2 linked regions of the Homo sapiens genome follow. The protein of the gene in region 2 purifies or fractionates together with the protein of the main gene of each other region. This does not show direct contact. Each region holds a gene or a part of one and is shown on either strand. Other genes may lie near its edges.

The links.
Region 1: the proteins of TP53AIP1 (region 2) and UBR3 purify together in Homo sapiens (affinity purification with mass spectrometry; 2 studies listed by BioGRID and IntAct, with this or other methods). This does not show direct contact.

What each region holds. Positions count from the first base shown.
Region 1 is NC_000002.12:169,917,804-169,933,227, reverse strand, and holds part of UBR3 (E3 ubiquitin-protein ligase UBR3), read right to left. Parts: intron 9,300-15,424; coding exon 9,234-9,299; intron 9,145-9,233; coding exon 9,055-9,144; intron 7,610-9,054; coding exon 7,481-7,609; intron 6,537-7,480; coding exon 6,484-6,536; intron 6,391-6,483; coding exon 6,257-6,390; intron 5,909-6,256; coding exon 5,823-5,908; intron 4,502-5,822; coding exon 4,360-4,501; intron 317-4,359; coding exon 220-316; intron 1-219. UniProt on the Homo sapiens protein: E3 ubiquitin-protein ligase which is a component of the N-end rule pathway. Does not bind to proteins bearing specific N-terminal residues that are destabilizing according to the N-end rule, leading to their ubiquitination and subsequent degradation.
Region 2 is NC_000011.10:128,938,978-128,954,221, forward strand, and holds the start of TP53AIP1 (p53-regulated apoptosis-inducing protein 1), read right to left. Parts: upstream 3,895-15,244; 5' UTR 3,867-3,894; coding exon of another isoform or gene 3,817-3,866; intron 3,521-3,816; exon of another isoform or gene 1-3,520. UniProt on the Homo sapiens protein: May play an important role in mediating p53/TP53-dependent apoptosis.

The sequences.
Region 1 (15,424 bases), on a different chromosome or scaffold from region 2:
GTGATCATGTTCTAAATTTATCAGATTAACATCAAATTTTGGATAAAGATCTTAACATAAATCTCCACCAGATTATTTTTTAAACCTTAAATTATTATTTTCACCTTTAAAGAATGAAAGTATACTTTAATGAGAGCATATCATATCTGTGTTATCACTGAAATTTTTCCATATAAATATAAAATACTGTTATGATGCTAATCAATTTGATGGACTTACAATGCAGTATATCTGTCCATTGCAGACTGCACATCTCTACGGTAAACTGTTCGAAGAATGACCATGACGGGGTCAAACTCTTGATCCCAGACTTCAGCTATTATTCAAAAGAAAGTAGAAACATTGACTTCTCAGAAATAAAATCAATATTTATTGACTTATTACATTTGTTAAGTATATTTTACATTTAAAACACAGAACAATTTAATCTGATTATAGTATTTGCCTTAAGAAGCTTGATGCCATGATTACTTTTCTAAGTCAAAAATCACAATTTCATCATCAGGAATGTTCTCTTGAGTTCAGCAAGCACTAAAGAACAAAAGTTTTGTAATACAACAATGCCTCACCAGAAAAGTTTACTTCATTGTTGTTGTTGTTGTTTGTAAGGTGCCAATTAGAAAGAAACACAGCAGGTTAGGATCTCTGAGAGTATTTAAAGTTAAGCAGGGCATGATGCCTTACACCTCTAGTCCCAACTACTTGGGAGGCTTAGGCAGGAGGCTCACCTGAACCCAGGAGTTTGAGACCAGCCCAGGCAACAAAGACAGACCTCATTTCCCAAAAAAAGTATTAAACAAAAAAAGTACTTAAAAGTAAAAACATGAAAACTAGATTTAAAGATTAATGAGGCTGGACACGGTGGCTCATGCCTGTAATCCCAGCACTTTGGGCAGCTGAGGTGGGCAGATCACTTGAGGTCAGTAGTTTGAGACAAGCCTGGCCATCATGGTGAAACCCCGTCTCTACTAAAAATACAAAAATTAACCAGGCGTGGTGGCGCACACCTGTAATCCCAGCTACTCGGGTGGCTGAGGCAGGAGAAACACTTGAACCCAGGAGGCGAAGGTTGCAGTGAGCCAAGATCACGCCACTGCACACCAGCCTGGGCAACAGAGTGAGACTCAGTCTCCAAGAAAAAAAAAAAAAAATTAATGAGCTATTGATTTTGAAGAGACCCACTTTATAAGTCTTTTTTGTTTATAAAAGATTTTCTGCTCCTTTGCTAAAACTGATAATTTGTCTTCTTACCTTCTGCATAATTAGGAACCACTATCTTGTGTGTGGAATGTGTACAACTGATGGTTCACAAGATGATTTTAAGTATTAAGTATATAAAGCTTTTCATTTTAATAATTATGTAATTATTTTTAATGTGTATAATGTATATTAGAAAATTGTAACTTGCAAATAAAATTCATGACACCTCACTAATAATCACGCTTAGGAAGAGGCAAGGTTTTTTTTAAGTTAACTCATTTTAAAAAATAGTGAAATACTAAGTATATTTCAGTAGAGAGGCTATTTAGATGTGGCAAAAATCTAAAGGATAAACTGAGATAATAATTTTAGAAACCACCGCCTTAAGAGTATCTCCTTAATAGATTTTTTTCTCTCATTCTCTCTAGCAAAATTCTTAACATTTGAAAACATGGTAAGAAGCTTAAGCTTCTCCCTAACCATCCACTATAATTACAACCTTCTAGCACAAGACACTGTTAACCATTGTTAACCACTGTCCCTAGTTTCATGTAACAAGCTATTCATCTTAAAGTATCAGAAGTATGACTTAAAATTCTGAAGACAGTCCTTCACAAAGATCTTTATTAGTATTTCTAGAATCATTTATCGTCCTTTTTTTTTTTTTTTTTTTTTTTAAGACAGATTCTCGCTCTGTCACCCAGGCTGGAGTACAGTGGCGCGATCTCGGCTCACTGCAAGCTCCGCCTCCCAGGTTCACGCCATTCTCCTGCCTCAGCCTCCTGAGTTGCTGGGACTACAGGTGCCCGCCACCAAGCCCGGCTAATTTTTTGTATTTTTAGTAGAGACAGGGTTTCACCATGTTAGCCAGGATGGTCTCAATCTCCTGACCTCGTGATCCACCCACCTTGGCCTCCCAAAGTGCTGGGATTACAGGCGTGAGCCACTGCGCCCGGCCTTGATCGTCCTTCTCTTTAAAGTCTATTATTTTGCATAATTAACATGCCAAAGCTTTTATCAGAATTGCACAACCTTAGCAATGGAAGAAAACTTCAGTGATTAATTAGTCCAGTGGGCTTCAAACAGTGTTCCATGGAGCTGAATTACCACAGATGTATAACAGGGGCCACTTTAGGAGCAAGTAGATAGCAGGACAGAGAAGAAGCTAGGTTCACTACCCACACCCACTTTAACAGGAGTAAGCCAGCTTTTGTTGGTTTTATATTAATATGACAAATTCACTTAAGGCTTAGTCCCCGAAACCAGAGGCTTGTTTCAACCACTTTTAAAAGTTTAAAAACTTATTTTACAGATAAGAAGCCAAATCCAAAGATAAAAAAACTGGCTAGGCATGGCGGTTCACACCTGCAATCCCAGCACTTTAGGAGGCTGAGGCAGGAGGATTGCTTAAGCCCAACAGTCGAGACCAGCCTGGGCAACACAGCAAGGCCCTGTCTCTACAAAACACATGAAAATTAGCCAGCATGGTGGTGGGTGTCTATGGTCCCAGCTACTGGGGAAGCTGAGGTGGCAGGACCACTTGAGCCCAGTAGGTCAAGGGTGCAGTGAGCTATGATGGCGCCACTGCACTCCAGCCTGAGCGACAAAGTGAGGCTCTGTCTCCAAAAAAATAACAAAAAAAAAAACAACTAATTTCCTAAACCACACAACTAGCAAATATAATTCATATGGTATTTAAATATGACACTCAATTTCCTTGCTCTAATCTCCGAATGCCCAGTATTCCATCTCAGCATTGTTCAGAACAGTCATCTAAACAGCTTGTTTTAAAAAGCAGATTCCCAGATTTCACCCACAGAGATTCTGATGATAGCAGATAGGAGGTGAGACACAGGGGCCTGCATTCTTAATGAGGAGCGCAAGTGAGTCTGACAGAGATGTAATCGTCACATCACACTTTTATAAGCACTGCACTACACCACAGCACCACTCCACTCCCAAATTCATCTAATTTTACACACAAAATATCCTCTACACTAAAAAAATACTGTGCTTTTCTTTTAATGGAATACTTTCCAACCAGAGACTGGATTTTCTTGCTCCTTGTGAACTCCCTGAAAAATCCCAAATAAGGCTTTTCTGTTCTGCTTTGCCAAACACACACAGTACAGTGTATATTATTTACAACTTCAAAATGGGCATTGGTTTTTCATTTAGACAACGTGTTGAGGGAGTCAAGAAGCACGTAACTGCTACTTCCTTCAAAATTTTCACTTAGAGAAGTGAAAATATGAAAGTCAAACAAAAAAAGACTGTGTAAATCAAAACCTCACTTACTTCTGGCTGCTGTCAAGGATGTCAACTATGAATCTATGCGGGAGAAACCTTCCAAAACCAATCATCCACTTAAGGAAAACGTTCTGTGCATTTAACATAGGTTCAAAATGTAAGTAAGTGCTATCAGCATTCTATGTGGACTTTTTTTTTTTGAGATGGAGTTTCACTCTTGTTGCCTAGGCTGGAGTGCAGTGGCCACGATAGGGTCTCACTATAACCTCCACCTCCTGGGTTCAAGTGATTCTCCTGCCTCAGCCTCCCGAGTAGCTGGGATTACAGGCACCTGCCACCATGCCTGACTAATTTTTTTGCATTTTTAATAGAGACGGGTTTCATCATGTTGGCCAGGATGGTCTCGAACTCCTGACCTCAGGTGATCCAGCCACCTCGGCCTCCCAAAGTGCTGGGATTACAGGCATAAGCCACCACACCCGGCCTATACAGACTTTAATTTGAACTATTTCAAGTTAAAATTTGGGTCGTGAGGATTCTTTTGCTGTTTCAAAATCAAATTTGGAGAGTAAATACATTCAAAATATTTTTTAATATACATTTTGTTTTATAGTTTCTGGTTCATTTATGGTTATGATCACTTATAAAAATGAATTAGAGTTCAAATATAAATTTCCTTTATAGTTTAGAGTCATCTAAGAAGTCTTAGTGTAACATAAAGCTATAGATTTCTAAGTAATTGAAAGCAGTATCACTGTTTACCAATAAAGACATACATTTATAACAAAATGGAGAAAAGAAAACCAAAGCTTGAACGAATAAAAGGTAAACATTTTCTTTTAATACACAGAAGAATTCACCATTCAAGAACTGATATTTGAAAGAGTCCATTTATGTATATAAACATACCTTTGGGAGTATACATGCCTTGTTGCATAGAACCTCCAGGTTCAAAAACAGGAGCCTTAAAATCAGCTACAGCTGATAAAACTGATTCAAAGCTGTAACTGCCTGGAATAATGCCACTTTTGGGATTAGGATTTTCTGGAATATGATATATATGTCAAGAAAAAAATATTAGTAACAAAAAGCCAGATTTATAGCCTTTCCAAGGTACTCTAGTTTCTCATTTTGCTGAAGTAGACAAATAGTAATTGGTTGTAATATACAAAGCTGGCCACAAGAGGGCTATATAATACAACAGATCAATAATAACTGTTTTTAATTGTGATTTTTGAAAATATGTTTAATCTAGGAGCCTACTAATAAATTGTATGCTGCAGTAGTTCCCAGGTATATTTTCCCCGAAATAAATTTATCAAATTTCAGAAAACGATAGAAAAACTTTTAAAAATGTGTCTTCATTTTTACCATTTTGTAAATAACTTTTCCTTAAAAAACAGAAAGAACTTGTGAAAAATTAGCCAAGATTTTTATGAGCAAAGATTGTTTTTCCAAAAACACAAAATTTCATCCCCAAAGAAAAAAATACTAAGCAAATATAAGCAAAGAGGCAAACCAAAAAGATTCTCTCCTCACATTAAAGCACATAAATCTTTAAAATTGAAAGACACAGAGATCGTTTTTACTCTATAATAGCACTGACACATAGTTCATAATGACTGAAGGAAATCATCAGACAGTATCAAATTGAGGCTGCTTACAAAAATCAAGGTTGTCAAACAGGCATTCTAATAGGACTTATTTCACAAAATAAAAAGTTTAGCCAATTCTTCCAAACATAGTCATAAGATATACAAATACTAAATTCGGCCAGAATTTTTATCACAAAATTACTTGATAATCTTTGTGTAAAATTTTATTAACATTAACTTAAAAAGATAATCAGATTCTCATTGTATGTTCAGTCCTATACAAAGAACCACAGGTTCCCTGTTTGTACACAAAAATCTATAAATTCAAAAATCCTTTAAGACCAAATTCTACAGAAAAACCCTCAAAATGTTTAAAATCCTGGTAATAATAATCGTAAGGTATACCTTTAACTGTTAACCATGAATTGCATCCTGGCTACACAGACAAAATGGACCTAGCTGCCTTTTATAAAACGTTCAGTAATGCTGTCCACTAGGAGGTTAAATGCTGGGGTGGCCAAAGCCATCATTCAGTCCTGAAATCTACCCTAAAGTCTAAGAAGAGTTCCCCAAGAGGTAATAACAGGAGGTTAAAAAAAAAAAAAAACAGTCACCAGGCTTGAATACATACTTGAGCACACAACTGGTGTTCTTCTTTTTCTATATTATTTTTCAACTTTGAAAAAAAATTAATCAAAAAATTGATAAACTATTAATCATAAAAAATACTTATTTTAGATCCTGCAACTAACAGAAAGTAAAATTTTAAAAGGATATGAGGTCCAGCAATGAACTGTGTGTCCTGTCATTCATACACAGCTGGGCTACCATCTCGGCCCTGAGAATCTCATCATCAGACATTCCTAAAATTATTAAAAACGGAATTAACAAATCTGAGTATACATAAATTATAAAGAAAAAAACTTACCACACTTTTTACTAAGCTGTTTTACCAAATATAAGATGCTTCAAATTAAAGAGTAAAGAAGCTATGCTCCAAACATAACTGCAGTTTAACTGCTGTTTGCAGTTCCCTTAAGCAAAGGATATTCTAAAAGGTATACCTACAGTACAACATATCAAGAGTTTGAAACATTGTTTACATTTATCTACATCCTTTCCTTTTTTCCCTAAGCCAGTTACTACCACAGGGAGGGGGAGAAAGGGAGGAAAACAGTTAATGCATAAGTATTAGTATCAGTGAGTTTTACCTAAATGTAAACGAAGACTCAAAAGAATCACAAGAAATGTAAGAGCGCCTTCTAACATCGACCTCTCATGCTCTGCATCAAGTACTGTATTTTGATGTTGTGATGCCATTGTCAACAAATCCACTACCTTAAATCTACAAGAAGAAATATTTGAAACATATTTTTATAAATTAAAACAAAATTAACTGGACACTTCCTAATACCTGTCTTAATAAAATTATGCCTACCTTTCAAAGACGGATGAAATAAAATAATCTGGGTCAAGTCTAGAAGCACAAACCTTTAAAAGAAAACAAAATGCTTTATTTCTCAATATTCAGTTTTCCTTCTTCTATTAATCATGTTTTTCTATACTTTTTTTTGTTTTTTGTTTTTTGTTTTTTGTTTTTGAGACAGAGTCTCACTCTCACCCAAGCTGGTGCAACCTCAGCTCACTGCAACCTCCACCTCTGCCTCCCAGGCTCAAGCAATTCTCATCCCCCAGTCTCCCGAGTAGCTGGGATTTACAGGTGTGTGCCACCACACCTGCCTAATTTTTGTATTTTTAGTAGAGACAGGGTTTCGACGTGTTGGCCAGGCTGGTCTCAAACTCCTGGCCTCAAGTGATCTGCCTGCCTTGGCCTCCCAGAGTGCTGGGATAACAGGCATGAGCCACCACGCCTGGCTATGATTTTTATTTTCTGTATATTATGATGTTTTGACATCTTGAGGGGCATTACAGACCTGAAGACAGATAGTCCCTCCCAGAGCCAGTTAATTCCTGAACATACTAAACAACTTACTTGGGAAAATGCCTGTCATGCAAGCCAACCACTGTCTTTATCTAACTCTCACACATCAACCCAGTATTTCCCCTCCCCTAAATCAACCCAGGGCCAGGTACCGCAGAGCCAGATACAGCCCCTATGCCTCAAAGCCTGCTGGAATTATTCAAATTAGCCAATCCTGCCTTGCCTTTCCTTGCCTTTCCTGCAGAAACCCCAATAAAGGCTCTGGCCTAGGCTCTCCCCTCACTCCTTTCTGCCTCTTGACCAAAATCTGGTGCTTTCCTTGTAGCCTTGTGTTGGGTGGTATGCCTCTTCTCCTGGGAAATGTAAGTAAAAAATTATTCTTTCAATGGCATTGGCCTCTCCATGTCATCACGCAGTCACCTCTATAAATTAAAATCCCTTGGGTACAAATGAGACACTTCTAAAGTATATCTGCATTATCTAGCTGGCTTACCTGTAACAGGTAAATGTCAGGATCAATCATGGAATTACAGAAATGAGACTGGACATACGTCATGGCTTGTCCTTTGATTTGCAGACCATTTCTTACCCACATATTGCTGTGGATTTCTGCAAGACTTGCCTAATAAAAGTAAATTGGACAAAGAATAAATTATCTAAATGCAATCTTTACAAAATATTATAAATAACCATTTCAAAATATTTAATGATGTGATCATAGTATAAGCCCGATATTCTGTCCAATGTTAAAGATAATCAGTTGAAATATACATTTTTACATTTTTTTTAACAATAATTATGTTTTTACATAGCCACTTTTTTAGAGTTTAAACAAATGAGTTGGTTTTCCATGTTGGCCTCTGGATACATTTATGATGATTTTCACTGACATCTTTCATAAGAAATCAATGCTTATGTTTCACTCTATTTCTCCCTCAAGAAAACCCTAAGTAACAACAACAACAATCCTAATATACATGTTTAAAGAAAGACACTAGAATAAGCATAAAATAAAACCAACTGTTCAAAGTCAATGAATACATTCTACATCTTTAATTCACCCTAACTCAATCTTAAATCTATACTGCTAATTTTCCAAATATTGGAGGTTAGAATAAATGTTCTCACTACATCAGTATTTAATTCTTCATGTATTTATGTCCAGTGTCAACTAAAACTAGGCAGTCATCATTTTTTTTGTTTTTTTTGAAACAGAATCTCACTCTGTCGCCAGACTGGAGTGCAGTGGCGCGATCTTGGCCCACTGCAACCTCTGTCTCCCAGGTTCAAGCAATTCTTCTTGCCTCAGCCTCCCGAGTAGCTGGGACTACAGGTGCACGCCACCATGCCCAGCTAATTTTTGTATATTCAGTAGAGACAAGGTTTCACCATGTTGGCCAGGATGGTCTCGATTTCTTGACCTCGTGATCTGCCCGCCTTGGCCTCCCAAAGTGCTGGAATTACAGGCGTGAGCCACCACACCTGGCTTCAAGCAGTCATAATTTTATGTTTCCTAACACCCAGAGTTCAAGTTCAATATTATAATAATTAACAAATCTAAAATTGCCAGGAAAAACAAATGGAAGTGCAAGTCCCTCTAATGTATATAAAAAGCTGGCCTGTCAAATTACATTGCTGGTATTAAAAGAAATCACAGTGCTTATATAAGCTAATTCTTCTCTCCTCTTTCTCCTCTCACTATACAGATAGGGAAACTGAGAATCAAGGAGGTGAATTACCTTAAACCTTGCGGAAAATAAAACAGTGGTAGCACCAAGGCTAGAATCTTTTGGATCTCCTGACTCCCAAAACAGTGCTATATAGTATGTTAAATACCACCCCATAAGCAAATATCATGAAAAGAATTCCTGGAAAAAGTAAAACTAAAAAGTAAATCTCATAAAATGAAAAATACCTAAACATAATCTAGCAAAAATACAATAACAACTTTTTAAAAAAAGTTTTCAAACATCTCAGCTATAATAACAATGAAAGGCATATAAATAAAGGAAGAATCACTTAAACAAGGAATCCACTTCAAAACTTTTTAAATGCCTGAATACATACTTGAATTTGGAGTGGGTGAATCATTAGTTTCATTAACATTTCCTGATCTGGTAAAACAGAATCCAAATCTAGTTCTTGACATTTCACAGCCTAAAAATTACAATAAAAAAGTTACTAATTCAATTCTTATTTCTGAAAATTAAAAAAAAAAGAACAGAATTGTTTAATGACAGTCTTACCTTACTCAAAAACATAGCATAGTAACGATGTAGTGGCAGATGAAAAGTGACTTGGTTAGGTGCTGGCTGGAATAAACAAACAAAATGCACAAGTCAAAGACTATTTTATAGAAATTTTAAGATGGTTGTAAAATGTTTAAACCATACTCTCACCTGGATTTATTCCTATACTTTTAGTTCAAAACTTAACATTTTAGAAGATGCAGATTCCAAAATCACTATAGATAAAATTTTTCCATTTTAAACACTTAAGTATAAGTTTCTTGAAGGCAGAAATTGTATTCTACTCAACTTTGAATCCTCTGAAGCATCCAGTACAGATTAATATTTCCTAAATTCAATTCAGCTAAAGCAAATAATTATTATTAAAACAAGGGATGGAATGGATTTCCAGCTACAGTAGACCATTTGGGACTCTTCAAACGCATGTATACCAAACATCATGACAGTAATAACAGTCACATATAACATTCATTGAACACTTCCTATGTGCCAGTCACCATGCTAAGCACTTTATTCACATTACCACATTTAATCCTCAGAAGAATGCTATGGGGTAGGAGCTACTAATATTCTCATTCTACAAGTAGCAAAATTCAAACTTAGAAAACTTAACTAACTTCCTAAAGTTCAAAAGTAGTGAACTGGGGAGCTAATCTGGACTCCACTGTCATATTCAAAACTGTAAGAAGACTCTGACCACATCCCTAAACAGAGGTATAAATGCAGGGCATCGTTAGATTCCTTCACCAGTTAGATAAGATGCTTCCAAACAGTACCAAACGCACCAGCCTCCATAACAAAACTTCATAAAAAATATGTGAATGACCTTAGGCATTCCTGTAAATATTACAAAAACTGTATTTTAAATCTGTGAATCCCATGGATCACAAAATCACTACAGGGCAAAAATACACCACAGCTGTCCTTCTTAAACAAATGAGTTAAGAACTGAAAAGGTATTGTTTGTTTTTAATGCTTTTTAAGTTCTTATTAAATATTCTCTTGTTAAAAATGTTTATCCCGGACATTCAGATAATTATGCTAATGTATATAATTTACATTATAGAGGTTATAAGGAGTCTAAATATGTCACCATCCCTGAAATAATTATTTTTTTCAAAACCAGTAAGATAATAATATCCTCTTCAATATGTAAAGGCTATAAAAATTTGTTCTAATAAATAAAAGTTTGCCCTCCATAAAAAGAAAGGAAAGTCTAACAATGTTCTGTAACATGAATAAACCTTCGGGATATTATGCTAAGTAAAATAAGCCAGTCACAAAAAGACAGTAACTATATGATTCCACCTATATGAGGTTCTTAGAGCAGCCAAATTCGTAGAGATACAAAGTAGAATGGTGGTTGCCAGAAGCTGGGGGAAGAGGAAATGGGGAGTAGCTATTTAATGAGTATAGTTTCAATTTTATGAGATAAAAAAGTTATGGAGATTGGCTGCACGACAATACAAATACACATAACACTACTGAACTATACACTTAAAAATGATTAAGATAGTGAATTTTATGTTTTCTGTGTATTTTACCACAATTAAAAATAAAATTTTAAAAAGTTTGCCCTCCATTACCATAATCGCCTTAGTAACATATTCTACACTAACTAGCTAAGTCAGAATCTCCCTCAATTTCCTTTGAGGCACTAAGCACAGTGGATAAGTGCAGACTCTTTTTTTTTTTTTTTTTTTAAATAGACAGGGTCTCACTCTGTGGCCCAGGGTGGAGTATGGTGGCACGATCACAGTTCGCTGCAACCTCCACCTCCCGGGCTCAAGTCATCCTCCCTCCTCGGCCCCCTGAGCAGCTGGGACTACAGACACACACCACCATGCCTGGCTAATTTCTGTTTTTGGTAGAGACAGGGTTTTTGCCATGTTGCCCAGACTGCTCTCGAACTCCTGGGCTCATGCAATCTGCCCGCCTCAGCCTCCCAAAGGATTGGAATTATAGACGTGAACCACCAGGCCCAGCCTAGGTGCAGACCCTTTTTTTGAGTCTCGCACTGTCCCCCAGACTGGAGTACGGTGGCGCGATCTCAGCTCACTGCAACCTCTGCCTCCCGGGTTCAAGCAATTCTCCTGCCTCAGCCTCCTGAGTAGCTGGGACTACAGGCATGTATTACCACACCGGCTAATTTTTGTATTTTTAGTAGAGACAGGGTTTCACCATGTTGCCCAGGCTGGTCTCAAACACCTGACCTCAAGTGATCCACCTGCCTCGGCCTCCCAAAGTGCTGGGACCAAAGGCGTGAACCACTGTGCCTGCTTCCTAAGTGCAGAATCCTGGTTCTACCACCCAGCTGTAAAACTATGGGCAAGTTACCTCTCTGTGCCTAAGTTGTCTGATCCTTAAAGTAGGAATAATAAAGAGTTTAGTAGCTGCGAGAAATAAGTAAAACAGCACAGTACCCAGTACATATTGCTATTAACTAGTAAGCCATGGACCCTATTTTATCTTTCAGGGCTTTAGCATATCCTATGTTCACATTCTCCATAACGTTAAAGTCCATATTCCTTCCTTGTCTAATGTCACAGACTGGCTACTTGATAAGCACTTCTTCTATTCCTATATATACTGAGAGTCCTTGGATTCCATTCTTCACTCTATAGTCTTCTATGTGAATTTATCCAGATTCACAGCTTCAGCTGCTAACTCTACCCAGATGAGTTCCAAATCTCAGTGGAAATCTCACTCCTGAACTCCAAATCTTACATTCAGGTGTCTACTGAACAGCAATACTTAATATTCCATAGGACCACAAATACAGCGTGTCCAAACCAAACTCAGTATCTTTGCCATAAAACTCAATCCTCCTCAATATTTCTTCTCCAGATTCCCAGTAATTTAAATATGAAATGTAGACTTCCTCCTTCTCACAAGCCTCCTATATTTGATGAGGTATCAAATTATGTTTACTTATTTTTTAAGTATCTCTTAAATCCACTTTCTTCTTTCTGTCTACACTGCACCTAACTAACCTTAGCTCAGGCCCTCAACACCTAGTGCCTAGATTTTAGTGATAACCCCTACTTCTACCATTATCCTGCATAAAACACCTTTTGTGGTGTCTGCCTAGCTCACAACCTTCCCATCTTCTCAGAATGTGTCTCCCTCTCCCACTCTCTGCCACCTCAACCACACACAGAGATTGGGGCCTGACAGTCAAGTTTATAGTAGCCATACTTGACTGGAGGCAGGGCAGGGGACATCTACCCCCGCTTGAGCAATGACTTTCTCTCTTAAAAAATTTGAACTAGGATTCAGAGACATTCACAGACAATCTGGGAGTATGCCTGAAATGGTAACGTTAGGCAACTATAAAAAGGCAGTATTTCACCACATAGGCAAAGCACAGGAAGGGAAGAAAAAATGAGGCACATACACTCAGGGCAAAGCAAAGGCAGGCGACAGGAGTTCCTATTCAGATTTCCAGTCCATCCCTGAGGTCCAGGTGCCCTAACCCTGAGACATCCCTATGTATTCATAATAAATTACTGCTTTTACTTTATTATTATACTTTAAGTTTTAGGGTACATGTGCACAATGTGCAGGTTTGTTACATATGTATACATGTGCCATGTTGGTGTGCTGCACCCATTAACTCTTCATTTAACATTAGGTATATCTCCTAATGCTGTCCCTCTCCCCTCCCTCCACCCCACAACAGGCCCTGGTGTGTGACGTTCCCCTTCCTGTGTCCGTGTGTTCTCATTGTTCAATTCCCACCTATGAGTGAGAACATGCGGTGTTTGGTTTTTTGTCCTTGCAATAGTTTGCTGAGAATGATGGTTTCTAGCTTCATCCATGTCCCTACAAAGGACATGAACTCATCATTTTTTATGGCTGGAATATACACATATTCCATGGCGTATATCTGCCACGTTTTCTTAATCCACTCTATCATTGTTGGACATTTGGGTTGGTTCCAAGTCTTTGCTATTGTGAATAGTGCCGCTATAAACATACGTGTGCATGTGTCTTTATAGAGGCATGATTTATAACCCTTTGGGTATATACCCAGTCATGGGATGGCTGGGTCAAATGGTATTTCTAGTTCTAGATCCCTGAGGAATCGCCACACTGACTTCCACAATGGTTGAACTAGTTTACAGTCCCACCAACAGTGTAAAAGTGTTCCTATTTCTCCACATCCTCTCCAGCACCTGTTGTTTCCTGACTTTTTAATGACTGCCATTCTAACTGGTGTGAGATGGTATCTAATTGTGGTTTTGATTTGCATTTCTCTGATGGCCAGTGATGATGAGCATTTTTTCATGTGTCTTTTGGCTGCATAAATGTCTTCTTTTGAGAAGTGTCTGTTCATATCCTTTGCCCACTTTTTGATGGGGTTGTTTGCTTTTTTCTTGTAAGTTTGTTTAAGTTCATTGTAGATTCTGGATGAACCTTTGTCAGATGAGTAGACTGCAAAAATTTTCTCCCATTCTGTAGGTTGCCTGTTCACTCTGATCGTAGTTTCTTCTGCTGTCCAGAAGCTCTTTAGTTTAATTAGATCCCATTTGTCAATTTTGGCTTTTGTTGCCATTGCTTTTGGTGTTTTAGACATGAAATTACTGCTTCTTTAACTCAGGCTGCTTTAAATTATTTTTTCCCCTTGCATTAAAAGAACCTTGACTAACATATCTCCTATTACCCTCTATATGCTGCCAGAAGGTAGTCTTACTTAAACATTAATTTAACCTTGAACTTCTTCCACTCACAATCTTTTAATGACTCCCTATGGTTTTAGCCTCCTGATAACCTTCCAATTCCTAAGAAGAAAGAGCTTACCTCTCCAGCCTCATCTTCTGTCACATAAATTCATGCACCATAGGTAGTATCCCTAACTTACTAAGCTTCTGTGCCTTTGTATACACTATTCCCCCTGCCGCAAATGCTATATATCCCTTCTCCCACTGGATTACTGTATCTTTAAGACTTTGCTCAGTTGACACTTCTACTAAGAAGCTTTTCTTGGGTTCTTCAGGCTAAATCAGGTGCTCCCTTTTATGGTCCCACATAGCACCTGGTCACAACTTTACAGAAGCACAGGAATCAAATTAACCATATACTTGTTTTCCACTTCCTTAAGTCAGGGACTGTTTTATCACTGTATCCCCTATGTTTACAACATAGTAAACATTCAATAAATATTTGCTGGATGAATGCACGTTCTACTTTCCTCTTACCAGAGGACTCTAGCCAAACCCACCCTGCTACAAACTCACAATTGTTGCCCTACATGATATTCATGTTTTTAAGAACTCTTAAATGGCCTATCTTATAGGAAAATGTATTCCATCTCCTGTTTCTATATGATTGTTTGATCTGGCTTACTTCAGTTCAAAACATATTATTGGCCAGGCACAATGGCTCACACCTGTAATCTCAACACTTTGGGAGGCCCAGGCAGGAGAATCACCTGAGCCCAAGTGTTCAAGACCAGCCTGGGCAAGATGGCGAGACCCTGTCTTAAAAAAAAAAAAAAAAATTATTTGCTTGATTTGTACTAGATTACCATAATAACTTCTGACATCCACCCACAAGGATGGAAGAAGAACTAATGTTTATCACACATGTAATATGTGCCTCTTAGTCAATCCTCACTGGTTAATATTATCACCTTCAATAGATGAGGAAATAGGCTCAGCAGTGTTAAAAAAAAAAAAAAAGTAAAAATATATTAACAATTAAACTTAAAAAAATCTGTCCAAGGCCACATAGCTAGTTGAATTATGGCAGAGCCACAATTTACACTCAGATCTGCCTACGTTAAAGCTCTTTCCACTGCCAACAACCAATACAGTTAAAACATTACCAGACAAGGAGTTCCAAAATGAGGACTGTGGACCCAGAAGTACCATAACTTGCTACATAACAATAGGCAAGTCATTTAATATCTCTGCATCTCCACTTCCCAATGACAAAAAAAGGAGGAATAATAAAACCTTTAAGCACCATATAAAAACATGACATGGACCCAGCACAGTGGCTCGTGCCTGTCATCCCAGAACTTTGGGAGGCCGAGGTGGGTGGATCACCTGAGGTCAAAAGTTCGAGACCAGCCTGGCTGACATGGTGAAACCCCATCTCTACTAAAAATACAAAAATTAGCTGGGTGTGGTGGCACACGCCTGTAGTCCCAGTTACTCAGGAGACTGAGGCAGGAGAATCGC
Region 2 (15,244 bases):
CGGACCAGTTTGGTACATGCTGGCCATGTGCGGTGACCACGCTAAGTACTGTGCGTGTACCATTTCTCGGAATACTTCCTGCAACCTTATGAAGTTCTCGCCCAATTTAACAAGCACTAACCAAACTCAGAAGGCATTTACCCAATGCTGCACGTTACGAAAATGTAAAAGAACGAACACGGCTTCAATACCAGGATTGAGCCCAAAGGTCACGTTCTTTCCCTGCGGCTCCCTTCCCCATCTGGTTCTGGGGAAGACACTCTGCACGCAGCCCCCAGGAGACCACAGGCCCTGGACTCCCAAATCCCAGCAGCAATGCAAAGCCACCCCCAGAAGAGCTGCCCAGGACAAGTGATCCTGCGGCCCATTGCTCACTCCCCGCAGAGGCAGGGGCAGCTGACTGCTGTCCCAGATGGACATAGAAGGTCACCATGTGGCCTGCTGGGGTCTGCAGGATAGAAGGCGTGAGGTGAAGAGTTTGAGCTGGTGCCTACACCTCCGTCTTCCAGCCACTGAAAACAGGATTCTCCAGAGTTCACACCTATGCATCTGGTTCAATGCTGGGCATTTTGTCAGGCCACAAGCCAGCAGCCATGCAGCGGATGCACCTGTAGATGATGCACTGCCTTACTGTCCAGACAGAACAAAAGGGATCCCCTTTCCAACCCGAAACTGTCGGATTCTCTAAGAGGTCCGTCACAACCCATCTTAATGCAAGAGGGACTGTGGCTCTTCTGGAAACACGATGCCTCGGTGCCATGAAATGACAGCTGCTTCTTTTGAAGAACTGGGCTATTCCCATGTAAAGCTGGCTGCAATGGATGATGTTTCTGACTCATACTCTGGCTTTAAAATCAAAGTGTTTGTTAGAAAGCAGCTTTGTTTTCCTTCTATTTCCTGTTTGAAAAGTGAAGCGTTAACACGAAGGAGGGTCCCAGCGGAGTTCATGCCGGGACTCAGGTTGCACACGGCCAGTGGTCCCGGGATATCCAGGGAGCCACTCAGAGGGGACACTTCCAGCTGCCATGCAAACTCATCATGCACCCAGCCCCCCCTTGCTCCAGCTCTGACCATAGTGCCCTCAACACAGGGCCCTGGGCAGCTACCCTCAAACACCTGGATGCCAAGCATGAGAGGGAACCAACTTGCCCTCCCTGGTCTATTATCACAAAGAACCTTGGAGCCCCTGCACAGGAACCCACTCCTTAGAGGGCACAAGGGGCCAAGTTTTGTTTGAGACAATGAGCTGGCATTGGAAGGGAGAGATGACAGCTATCCTCTGTCCTGCTTCCAGGGCAGGGCAGAGCAAGCTGCTTTTGGCCCCGTCTCTGAGGCAGACATGAGCACACTTGTCTCAGGCAGAAGCAGCCTTAGATGGTGTTATGGTTTGAACGTGTTTCCCCCGCAAAATCCAGGTGTTGCCAATGTGCTAGCATTAAGAGGTGGGGCCTTAAGAGGGGATTAGGCCATGAATGGAATCAGGTGTCCTGATGTAGGTGCTGTGTGGAGGGAGTACATTCACTCGTTGCCCTTCCACCTTCAGCCATGTGAGGACGGCAGCCTTTGTCCCTTCTGGAGGACGCAGCAGCAAGGCACCATCATGAAAGCAGAGACTGGAGCCATCACCAGGCACAGAACCTGCTGGCACCTGGCTCCAGAGCTGTGGGAAGATACATTTCTGTCCTTTGTGAATCGCCCACTCTCCGGGGTTGTGTGAGAGCAGCACAAAATGGACTGGGACAGCTGGAATGTCAGTTTGCAACAGTCCCCACCCACACACTCAAGGCATGCCACGGCGGCCACGCTGGGTGCCTTTCCGCAGGTGCCCAGGCATCAGGAGCACTGGCCCAGTCTCGAGGGGCGTTCATGTCAGGGAGGTGCCCCCGCTAGTGTCAGCTTCAGCGCCGCCAGCATCAGGAAGTTCATCTCGACAAGCCCGGGCAAGAGAGGAGGCGGTGAGATCACCTCCTACCCATCCAGAGATCCCCCGACTTTGGAGTAGTCTGAAGGACTTGAGACTCCTGAAGTGAGAGGGGACAGAGCTAGGAGAAGGGAGGGCAGCCAGAAGGGCAGGGGTGCAGGGGGCGGGATGAGGAGAGCCAGGCTGGCATTAGCAAGAGCTTCTTCATGTCCTTTTGGCCCAAGGGGGCCGTGTTCTCTGAGGAAATGGGACTTGCTCCAGGGAAGAGGAAGAGCTCAGCATCCACTTTCCCTCTGCCGAACAGCTCCTGGGGAAAGCCCACCACTGTCTTCTTGCCCCGCTCTGTGCCCTCACACAAGCGATTCTCTCCACCTGCGACGTGTTTCCTCTCCCTCCCCTGGCCAGTGTCCATGGGTTCTCTGAGACGGAACAGGAAGTATTTTAAGGAAGACCTCCCTAACCTCCTCCCAGCTGGGTGGATCCCTCCCTCTGGGCCCCCACACATCTCAGTTTCAAAAGACCATTCACATTGTAGTCTAAATTAGTGGATCCCTGGTGTGTGATGTGTGCAGTTATAATGGGTTGCCTCAGCCCCCAACGCACCTTTCATTGCCTTCTTCTGTGATAATGCCCCTGGGCCCTGTACCCATTTCTCCCTTGCCAGCTGGCATGATGTTTAGCCCTGTGCAGAGGCAGGGGCCTCTCCCCGGTTCCGACATTTCTTTCTCTGCTTGCCCCGGCTGCTGGGGGGACATGAGGGACACTTGGCCCTGTTCTCTCTTCAGCAATAATTAGTCCCAGCCCAGGTTCCTGGCCTGCTGCTCCCTGAGGAGGGTTTGCCAGTGCCAGCCCGTGCTTCCTTGTACCAGGACTTGGTCTGCTGGGACCCAGTGGAAAGCCCACGGCTGCCGCCCCCACCCACCTTCCCCTGCTTGCCAGCCACAGTCACCAGCTGTAGACTTGTGTGGCTGTGCTGCGGAAGCAGATCTGGGTGGAGGAGGGCCCCACGCACAGACGTGAATATGAAGGGACCCTCTAGAGGTTGTGGCAAACACAGGTGCCCCGCCCCATGCCCTGTCTGCAGTCACAGCCCTTCCTACATGGAGGGTGCTATCATCAATCTTCTGGGGGGCTGTGGACACTCTGCATCCCCATACCTGTGGCAGTCCTGGCACACGGTAAGCTCTCAGTAAGTGTGGTGAGTCACTGCTGAAGGAACTAACAAATAAACCTCCCACCACCAACCACAGGTAGCTGGGGCAGAACTAGGGAACTGCTGAAAGGAGGCTGGTGAACCCTGCCATGACATGCCCGCTGTGCCCAGGACCCAGGCTCCCACAGCTCGCGTCCTTCCTCTATCCCAGATCCATTCAAAGTGAAGTGGCCTCCATACAGGCTTCCCTAGGGGCCCTGCTCAGTGTCCATGAGGCCACCATGCCGCCGTTCACCAGGGGACGTGAGAAAGGGGCTGGCCTGTGGACCAGGACTGACCCAGGTCTGAGCCCCAGCTCAGCGGTCGGCTAGCTGTGCGAGCTTGCGCAGTAGCTCCCCAAGTGTGGCTCAGGACGCACAGCATCGGCGTCAGCATCGCCCAGGAACCTGTTAGAGATACACATTTTTGGCCCCAACCTGCATCGACCAAGTCAGAAATTCTGCAGTGTGTGTTTTCGTAAGTCCTCCAGGTGACTCTGATGTACTCTCAGGGTTCAGAACCATTGAGAGAGAGCAGTTTAGCTGACCTCCTCCAGGCCTCACCTGCGCATGGTCACGACTGTACTTTCCGCACACAGTCGCCGAGATGCGTGTGAAACCCCAAGCACAAAGCAGAGTGAATCGCAGTGGCCAGAGCATACCTGAAGCACCAGCGCTGGTCCCCTCCCTCCCCCTCTCCTCACCTGCCTCCTAGGAGTCGGAGGGTCCGTGGAAATGGTCTCCTCCTGCACATCTGTGCTGCTGTGACTGGGTGCAGGTCTGAGCAGAGGCTTTCGGAGTGAGCTGAGCAGGCGAGCCCGAGCACGGCCTCTCAGGGAGCGAGCCCATAGGCTGGGGAGCCGTCCCTGGAGATGCCCCTGGGCTCCTTGCGGGGCATGGCTGAGTTCCTGCCTGTCCTTGGCAGGCCCGCAGTGGTGGGGTGGCTCAGGCAGTTACCCTTTTCACAACCAGTGCTGCTGGGGGTGAAGGCAACGGGTGGGTGAGCACGGACAGTGTGAGCCACGTGGCCGGGAGCTGGGCCAGCTCGCTGTATGTGCACATCGTTTCCATGTGTGCAGCAGAAATTGGCGTCTCTGCACAAAGCTGATTTTAGTCTTTCTCACCTTTTCTTGCTCAGCTTAAAATAGGCCTCTCTTCAGGGACAAGGTGGCCTTATACCAAGCCAAAGTGCTGAGGGCGCAGGGAGACCCGCGAGACAGGGCCCCCTGAAGTCCTGGCGGTTTCTAGCCAGCCTCTTGAAATTGACTTGAAGGTGTTTACCTTGCAGATTATTTTTTCCAACTTCCCACACTCTGCTTCCCGCACTCTGTCCTTCCTCAAGGCTGGCACGCTCATCAGTTGACTTCATCTCTCCCTAATGGCAAGGCCTGACCCAGAAAGAAATGCAACTCAGATCCCGGCTCAAATGAGGCTGGGAAAGCTGATGCCTGTAAGACCGACAAAGACGGTGCAAGGTGAGGTGAACGCCGCTGTGTCTGGGTGCCGGGCTCCCTTGTCGAGTTGACCCTGAGTCTGCATCAGCTCAAACGCAGTTCCCGGTTCCCCACTGAGATTCCCACTCCCGCCTGGAGGGGAGACGTGCCTGCCTTTTGAATGAAGCGTTGCACACTAGACATAGTATCACAGGCAGAATTGTCATTTTTAGCCTTTTTACATGTTGCCAACTTTCAGACATACTATTCCGTTTTATCCCTCCAAATTCCTCAAAAGCTGCTTCTATTTTGGAGCTCTTTCTTGCCAGTGCTGGGTAATTTCTCCCTAGCCATGTTTTTATTGTAGAGAATGGAAACCTGATGTGATGAACACTCTGAGTAGAAATCCCTGGGGGCTCGCAGTTAACCGGATAAGACATCTCACCCTGAGAAACGGTCCCAATTTCCTTTTAAAAATTCATTGTCTCTCTGAGATACATACATATTTCCTTGTCTCATTCCAGAATCAAAAGTTCTAATGTTGCAAAGAATAATTTTTGTCCAAATATGTTTTCTTCCTGGTGTTCCAGAGAGTCTGGGATAGCAAGAGGTGTGGAGCTTTGGTCCTCGGGTGACTCTGATTCCATCGTTCCTCCAGCAACCAGGGAGCAATCACTGCTGGGCAGGGAACACCTGCTTCCTCCCTGGGCTTCCAGCCTTCCCCTAGCAATCTTTTTTTTTTTTTTTTTTTTGAGACAGAGTCTCACTCTGTCACCCCGGCTGGAGTGCAGTGGTGCCATCTCAGCACACCGCAACCTCCAGCACACTGCAACCTCCACCTCCTGGGTTCAAACAATTCTCCTGCCTCAGCCTCCGGAGTAGCTGGGATTATAGGCACCCACCACTACACCCAGCTAACTTTTGTATTTTTTAGTAGAGATGGGGTTTTACCATGTTGGCCAGGCTGGTCTCGAACTCCTGACCTCAAGTGATCTGCCCACCTCAGCATCCCAAAGAGCTGGGATTACAGGCATGAGCTACCGCACCTGGCCCCCAACACTCCTTTTTAAGACCCATTTGAAAATAATGACAAAAACCACAATTACTTTTGCACCAAGTTTAACCACAGTTTACCAGTGTGCGGTTACTGTGGCTTGAACATTGTTATCCATGCATGGTACTTCTCTTAAAATTTGCTCCCATGCAATCAGAACACTTCTATACAGCCTGTCTCCTTAGATAGACTTGACCATCCTTCTCTGCTCTTGCATCTACTGCTTGGGGCGAGGGCAGGGTCTGGCCCCTGGGGATAGGCCAGACAGGCTCACCAATTGGACAAATGGATTCAGGTCAGCTTTGTAGACTTGGCCTATTCCCATCTCTTGACACAGCGGGAAAGTCTTGCTTCCTGCCAATTATCCTCTGCTAAGCCATATTCAGCATTTCAGTTTTTATAAGAGAACCATGAATTCAAGGGTATTGGGCTTAGTCTGAGCTACTAACAATGGGTTACTTTTCTTACTTTTGCCTATTAGAGCTTGGGGACAGAGCTCCTCCAATTAGACCCTCAAAGCAACAATGAGTGAACAGCAGGCCAAGATCCAGGCATTCCCAGGCCTGGCCTAATGTCACCCTAGTCCTTGACCCTGCCTGCTGGACTTTAGGACATGAAGGGGTTAGACATGGATGAGGTTAGAGAGGTGTTTGCATGCCAGAAGACGGTGAGTGTCCGGGCCACATCGAGGCGCTGGAACATCCTGCAGTGCTGTGCGTCTTAGAACATGCCCACAGCCCACCTGCCCCAGAGCAGTCTGAGTGTTAAATGTGTTGGTTCTTGAACCGCATTCCGGGTCTGCTGGATCAGAATCTTTGTGGGTGGGGCCCAGGAACTTCCATTCTAGGAGATTCTTGTGCCTACGTCACTGATCAGGATGTTAACTGAAGAATCTAAGCCAAGGGATGGTGTCATCAGATTGGCCACTTTGGTCATGTTTTGTGGGACGGATTTTAAAAACTGGAGGCCAGACAAGCGATTGCTGTAGTGCTGCAGGTGACAGACCTTGATGAGCTGAGCTCAATCATCAGGCGGGGTACAGCGAGACAAGGAGGCCAGGGCAAGTCTCTGGCTTGAGTGACCAAGTAAATAGAGGATAATTAGGGGATTCAGAAACAGGGGCTGAGTTGAGGGGCCTGTGGGATCTCCAGATGGGAGCAGTCCAGCAGGAAGTAGGATCCATGGACCTGGAGCTTAGGAGAAAGTTCCAAGCAAAAGATCCAAATAGGTGGGAAAGGAAATCTTTAAAGTAGATGCAATTTCTCAGGAAGAATGTGAGAGCAAAGAAAAGGCACTGAGGCCAAAGCTTCAAGAACACCAACATTAAAGGGCTAGGCAGAAGGGAAGTTGCCCAGTGCATGGGGGCTTATATGGGAAAGCATGTTTTCATGTGTCTGCTTCAGATAAATTTATATTTCAATAGGACAGAATGTTTTGATGGATAGTAATCAGTCCCTGGAGCCCCATTCAAGTATTGTCCCAGGGCCGGGCACGGTGGCTCACACCTGTAATCCCAGCACTTTGGGAGGCCAAGGTAGGTGGATCACTTGAGGTCAGGAGTTCAAGATCAGCCTGGCCAACCTGGCGAAACTGTGTGTCTACTAAAAATACAAAAAAAAAAATAGCCAGGCATGGTGGTGCACACCTTTATTCCCAGTTACTCAGAAGGCTGAGTCCGGAGAATCACTTGAACCCAGGAGGTGAAGGTTGCAGTGAGCCGAGATTGTACCACTGCACTCCAGCCTGGGCGACAGAGCAATAATCCATCTAAAAAAAAAGTATTATCCCAGGCTATTTAATAAATTTGCTCAGTAATCACAATGAGATGTAGTCAATAACCAGAGTTAAATGTTCCTGTTAGGGGTAGAGGGAGAGAGGACTGAGTTGGGTGGGAGAACAGCTCTACAATCAGTGAGAGTTGACATGATGTGGACATAGCTGTATCCTCTTCATTGAGCCTCCAGTCCCTGCACACTGAGAAAGTGAAAATGCTTTCAGTAAAATTGCCTCCAGAAAGAAATGTCACCAGCTGACCTTTTCAGATGTGAGTATAAGACACATCAAAAAGATATTCTGGAAGGACAAAGAGGAGGGTGCTTTCTACACCTCCCATTTGAGTAGGGGCAGGGAGGGTATGTGCTTTAAATGTCTCTTGGCTGGGAATAAAATGGATTTTCCTCTTTCCCACTTTATGTGGATGTTGTTGGTAATAATTCACAAAGTATACTTCTGTTTATGCTTCAATTCCCCCTGGTAAATGTTTAACCATAATTGCACCTTAAGAACAGCGGTCCTCAACCTTTTTGGCAGCAGGGACCGGTTTCATGGAAGACAATTTTTCCATGGACTGAGGAGGGGGATGGTTTCAGGATGACTCAAGTGCATTACATTTATTGTGTACTTTATTTCTATTATTGTTACATTCTAATATATCATGAAATAATTACACAACTCACTAATGTAGAATCAGTGGGAGCCCTGAGCTTGTTTTTCTGCAACTAGACAGTTCCATCTGGGGGTGATGGGAGACAGTGACAGATCATCAGGCATTAGATTCTCATAAAAAGCATGCAGCCTAGATCCCTCGCATGTGGAGTTCACGATAGAATTCATGCGCGCTCTTATGAGAATCGAATGCCGCCCCTGATCTGACAGGAGGTGGTGCTCAGGCAGTAAGGTGAGCGACGGGGAGTGGCTGTAAATACAGATGAAGCTTCACTGGCTCACCCACCACTCACTTCCTGCAGCCCAGTTCCTAACAGCCCACAGACCCATACCGGTCTGTGGCCCAGGGGTTGGGGATGCCTGCCTAAGAAGAATAAGAATTTATATGGAGTGCTCCGCCATGTGCCAGACCTTATTCTCAATGCATAATGTACACGAACCCAGCTGTTCTGCAAAACATGTCACGGGATAGGTGTTTTTATCCTTACTTTACAGAACAGCAAACAGAGGGCTAGTGAGGTCAAATGACTTAACCAAGCTCACCACACTAGTAAGTAGCCAGCCCTGGATTCACACCCAGCCAGTCTGGCTCCTGGGCCTACTCTCTTGCCTGTTATTTTATACCACATTTATAGGTCCTAGTGGTTATTAATAAATACAACTCTTTGGATTGTACATGTACATTAAAATTTCTCAGAGGAAGCCAAAGGTAGTCAACAACTCCAATAATGCACTGACTGTAGCATTTATGATAAATAAGCAATCAGTGAAGCAGAATAATTCATAAGTGTTCTTTCTTGCTATTAGAAGACTTGGATGCTATAAAATATGTACATTTCACTACACCATCTTATGCATATTTATCACCTTAGATGGTTTCACGTGTCTGCTTTTAGCTAGATTATACATTCTCTGAGGTTAAGAAGTGCACACTCCCAATATTTGGAGCCCTGGCACAGAAAGCCAGAGAAAGCCCAGTGATGCATTTTCATGGCTGAGTCACGTTATGCAGGGGAGCTCAGGAGAGCAGCTTTCAGTTCACAAAAATATTTTTAGCTATTTTCCAAGTTGGGAAATCTAAATCTAAAATATGTTTTGGGGCATTTATTTCTCTTTTAGAAGATATTTAACTACATTTTTATAACTTGAAGAGAAATGTATCCACATAGACACAATTCCAGTTGAAAGAACCCTATAGAATCCATAGTATTAAGAGCCTTTTAAAAATGTATAAAGAAAACAACAAGTTTTTTTTCCTGAGCCGATCTCTGAACCAAAGGGCTGTAACTGAAGTTTGACCATGACCCAAAGTTTCTTCAGAATCTCTTCGCAGCACACTGAATACCCCCACCCCCATCAAGGGTATTCTCAGCTGCAACGCCTGCCTCCTGGACAACGACCTGGTATTAAGTGTTAAAGAATAAATGCTAGTGGTCAGAGCCCTTTTGCTGAAAGTCCCAAGAGAACTTCTGCTCCTGATCGTGCAGAATTCAGCAATTTAGAACAACCTTCCATCTGAGAAGAAATTAAAGAGGTAGATAAGGTCTTCTAAAAATTGCTCTTGAAGGCATTATTAGCTCATTAGTGTGGTAACAAGATAATGATGAATTAGTAGGGAAAGATCTAGGAGTGAGACCAGAGGCCCAGGGAGAAGAGCCAGCAGCCAGGACCACTTTTCCACCCGAGGCCTGTGTGGATTCTAGAGGAGCTGGATGAAAGGCGGGTGGTTGCCTGCGGGGCTGAGTGCACCTGCCTTGGAGTGCAGAGGCCCCTGGTGTAGGGTGAGCCTGTGTGTGGCTGGTGGCCTGATGAACCCTCTTCCTTTTGGGTTGAGATCATGGAAAAGCTGCACCCTAGGAGCAAACTGAACAGAAGAAGACTCCTTTCAAGGCAACTGCAGTTCAGCCTTAAGCTATCTCAATCTCTGAAATTGGAGGAGGGTAACTCCAAGAGTTATCCTGTACCTCTGAAATTGGAAGAGGGTATTTCCAAGGATAGCTTGGAGTCATCCTATGCGTAACTCCCAGTGTTATGCATCCTGAGATGCATGGCAGAAGCAAGCTGAAATCCTCTCTGGAGGAAGGTGATATTACCCTAGCCCTCAAATTGCTTTAATAAACAATGTTTCAAAAATAATGTTCAGCACACAATGAGGAATAACAGGCACACAATAAGAAAAGGAAATGAGCTAAGAGAAAACAGGCAATACAAACAGGCTTACAAGGACTCAAAAAATAGGAGCTATTGGACATGGACTTTAAAACATCTATGTGGCTGGGTGCGGTGGCTCACGCCTGTAATCTCAGCACTTTGGGAGGCCAAGGCAGGCGGATCATCTGAGTTCAGGAGTTCCAGACCAGCCTGGCCAACATGGAGAAACCCCATCTCTACTAAAAATGCAAAAAAAGTAGCTGGCCGTGGTGGCAGGCACCTGTAATCCCAGCTACTCGGGAAGCTGAGACAGGAGAATCGCTTGAACCTGAGAGGCAGAGGTTACAGAGAGCCGAGACCATGCCATTGCACTCCAGTGTGGGCAACAAGAACAAAACTCTGTCTCAAAAAAACAAAAATAAAAATAAACATCCACGTATACATGTTTAAGATGACAAAAGACAGTATTGAGAATTTTGGCAGAGAACTGGAACTATATATGTAAAAAAAGAATATTTCAGAACTGAAAAACTGATTATACTTTTAAAACTCAATGGATGTGGCCGGGTGCAGTGGCTCACGCCTGTAATCCCAGCACTTTGGGAAGCTGAGGTGGGTGGATCACGAGGTCAAGAGATCGAGACCATCCTGGCCAACACGGTGAAACCCCGTCTCTACTAAAGATACAAAAGTTAGCTGGGCGTGGTGGCACACGCCCAGCTACTCAGGAGGCTGAGGCAGGAGAATCGCTTGAACCCAGGAGGCGGAGGTTACAGTGAGCAGAGATTGTGCCATTGCACTCCCGCCTGGCAACAAAGCAAGACTCCGTCTAAAATGAATCAATAAATCAATAAATCTAAAAATAGTTATAGAACTTATAGAGTGATGAAAAACACCCAGAATGAAGCATGGAGAGACAAAATACAGGAGACAGAATGTTAAATTAAATTAAATTTGGGCTGAGGCTGACTCCTTTCTTAAGTCCCTACATAAAAAAATTGCAACCTAACTTAGTATGTAAACAAACTTGCAACTAACTTAGGAGTATTTCATAACAAACAGCTGGGTGTCAGCCAATAACAGCAGCCAACCTTCAGCCAGTCACAGGCAGCCAAGTGATCAGGCCGCGTTCAAATAAAGCAAGTGCCAAGCCATCAGCAATCAAACTGTTACTGTAACTCACTTGGGATTTTCTGTCTATAAAGATTCCCTGCTGACATTGCAGAGTGAGCTCCCTGAACCTCCTCACGTTCTGAGGGCTGCCCAATTCACAACTAAGCAAATCATTCTTTGCTCAGTTAAACTCTGTGAAATATATCAAAAGTTCTTCCTTTTAACAAGAGTAAGAGATAGAGAGGATATAGTAAGAGAATCCAACATACCTATACTTGGAATTCCAGGAAAGGAGAATGAAAATGAAGCAGAGACAAAATCTAAAGAGAATGGCTGAGAACTTTACAAAAATGCTGAAAAATATTAAGCCACGTATTTAAGAAGTTCTACAACTCTAAGCCAAAAACATTTAAAATATATATATATTTAAATTCATACATATATGTATCACCTCCATATCTATACACATTATAGTAAAAATGCTAAATAACAAAAAACAGAGACAAAGAGAAAATCTTAAATGCAGCTTGAGGGAGTAAAAAAACAAACAAAAAACAATTACCTTCCAAAGAGTAACAATTAGACTTAAATCTGACTTCTCAACAGAAACAACAGAAGTTAGAAGACAATAGAAAGAAAATAAGAGCCAGCCTGTACCTGATGAAAATGACCTTCAAGAATGAATTCAAAATAGAAACACTTTTGGCCAGGCACAGTGGTTCGCACCTGTAATCCCAGCACTTTGGGAAGCCGAGGGAGGCAGATCACCTGAGGTCAGGAATTCAAGACCAGCCTCACCAACATGGTGAAACCCCATCTCTACTAAACATACAAAGGTTGGCCGGACATGGTGGTGCACATCTGTAGTACTAGCTAGGTTGAGGCAGGAGAATCGCTTGAACCCAGGTGGAGGAAGTTGCAGTGAGCCGAGATTGTGCCACTGCACTCCAGCCTGGGCCACAGAGTGAGACCCTGTCTCCAAGAAATAAAATAAAATAAAATAAAATAAAAATAAAATAGAAACATTTTCAAATAAACAGAAACTAAAAGAATTCATTAATAGCAGACCCATACTAAAGGACATTCTAAAAGATGTTATCCATGCAGAAGGAAATGATCCGAAGTGGAAGTTCAAAGATAGACCAGCTATAAAGGAAAAATTGGATAAATCTAAATATTTTAAAGTTAAGACTTTATTCCTTGAAAGACATCACTAAGAGAGTGAAAAGATCAGCCACAGACTGGGAGAAGATACTTACACAACACATGAAATGAACAAAAGATGCCTATCTTTCCTTACATATTCTTAGGCAAAGCACTCCTTGAAATTAAGAGACAAGACAAGCACTGAAAAAATGAGTAACAGGCAACTCACTGAACTTATAGACTGATGAAAAATACCCAGAAGAAAACATGGAAAGATAAAACAATGTAAAATACAGAAGAGAGTATGTTAAATTAAATTAGCGAAGGAAATGGAAAGGGCAATGCAAAGGGTTTTCTGGGTGCGAGAATGTTTCTGTTGATCTGGATGATGGCCACATGCGTACTCACTTTGGAATAAGCCTTACTTGGCACTTTCTCAACATATTATATTCTACAATACAAAAGTTTTTATAAAAAAGAGTGAAACTGGAAAAAAAAGGATAAATACTGGGTTGTGGGAGGGGTTAGAAAGATGAGCTGTTGGAAAAACACACAAAGAACTTCAATTGTTTTAGCTAATGTGCTTGTTTTAAATTGAGTCATAACTTCGTAGTATTCAGTTACTTATGCTTTATAGTTTAACAACTATGCAAATTGCTTCTAGTTATTTGGTTTTTTAATTTAAAAATTAATTTTAAAAAGACAAAATGTTAGAAATACATATAGTCATTTATATCCACCCATAAGTGATTCAAGATGAAAAAGCCGGCAAACTCTGTTCCCTAATCCAAACCCTTAAGAAGCACAGGGAAATCGGATGATGTTCTGCTGAGGCCTCAATCAGGTGGATCAATCTCCACCCAAACTCATAGAAACAGACCAAGAGACAGAATGCATGTGGATTCTAAAGGTTTCTTGTTATTTTTCTGCAGAGCCTGAGGCCTGAGGTAAACCCTGAAAAAATTACTGGAGAAAGAAGTACGTTCAGGATTAGAATCTGAACCCCCAAATTCTTCTCCAAGGGAATGCCCTTTGGGCTGTTGAGAAGGCAGTGGAACTCTGCAGACAGACACAGCAGACACGGTGGACCTAGCCATGAAATCTGCTGAAGTCCAGGGAGTTCTTGCTCTTCTCCCTAGCTGAGGTCTCAAGCACCTTTTCCTGGCTGCTTTGACCCTCCCTCCCTCCTTAGCTGTAATACTTGTGGGTCCCTAACCTGCAAATGTATTAGTTTTTCATAGCTGCTGTAACAAACCTAGTGGTTTTAAAAACACATGTTTATTGTTTTGCGATTCTAAACTTCGTAAGTATAACATGAGTCTCACTGGGCTAAAATCAGGTTGTCTGCTGGCTGTGTTCCTTTCTGTACTGTCTAGGGGAGAATTTATTTTCTTGCCTTTCCCACTTTCTAGAGGCAGCCCACATTCCTGGGCTCATGGCAGTCTTTCCACATCTTCAAAGCCAGCAACAGCAAGTGGAGTCCTTCAACACTTTGACCTGGATCCCAGTTCACATCTCCTTCTCTGTCTTTTTCTGCCTCCCTCTTCCACTTTTAGGAACCCTTGTGATTACATTGGGCCCATGAATAATCTTCCTATTTTAAAATGAACTGATTTGCAGCCTTGATTCCTCTCTCTGCCACATAACCTATTCATAGGTTCTGAGCATTAGAACATAGACATCTTTGGGGGCCATTATTCTCCCTACCACGGCGCTTCACTAGCTAACCAGGCTTGCCTGCTCAACACACCTTCCAGTCAGCTGTGTGTGTGTGTGCGTGTGTGTGTGTGCTTGTGTGTGCATGAGCATGTGTGCGTGCTTGTGTGTGAGGTGTGTGTGCATCTGTGCATGCATGTGCGTGTGTGGTGCATGCATGGGTGCGACAGTGTGTGTGGGTGCGCGTGCAGGTGTACGTGTGCATCTGTGCATGCATGTGCGTGTGTGGTGCATGCGTGGGTGCGAGTGTATGTGTGTGCATGTGCGTGTGTGCATGCGTGTGCATGTGTGTGCATGTGTGTGCGTGTGTGTGTGTGCGCGTGTGCATGCACATGGGCATATAATTCAAATTTGAATTGGTAGCCACTGATTGTCAGACATGAGGAAAGTTTCTGACATACGGAAGAGGAACAAAAACAGATGCAAAGGAAATTAAGGGGAAAAAATGCAGGGTACAAAATAATAGTAATAATTCCCTCTCATATCTCAGAGAGGAAGGTGCTGCCTGGATCCATCAAACAAAACAAGAATATAGAAAAGAGCATCCCAAGATCAAGAACGAATTCTTGGAAATTAAAAATATAGAAGATGTAAACAAATTCCACATCAGGGTTGTTTCATAAATGAGTAAATATCCCAGAAAGTAAAACAAAATGTCAGACATGGACAAAAGGAAAGAAAGGATAAGAGAAATTGAGGATCAATATAGGTTCAGTGGCCCACGAGGTTCCAGCATCCAATTAAGCTGATGTTCAGAAGGCTGAGAAGAAAATACCAAGGAAAGAATTCTGTAAATCCCCAAACTGGAGACCGATTGAAGGGGCCACTGCCCAGCACTATTAGTGCAAAAAGACCCACGCAAAGAAACATCATCATTAAAACACAGAAACACCAGGAAAAAAGAGATTTAAGAGTTTCCAAAGGGAAAATAGTTCACATGTGAGGATCAAGAAACAGAATGGCATCAGACTTCTCCACAGCTAGATTTGCTGCAGAAGACAAAAAGGAGTATCATCAAAATTATGCGGGAAAATGATTTTCAGACTAGGATTCTGTATTAAGCCAAACCATCAA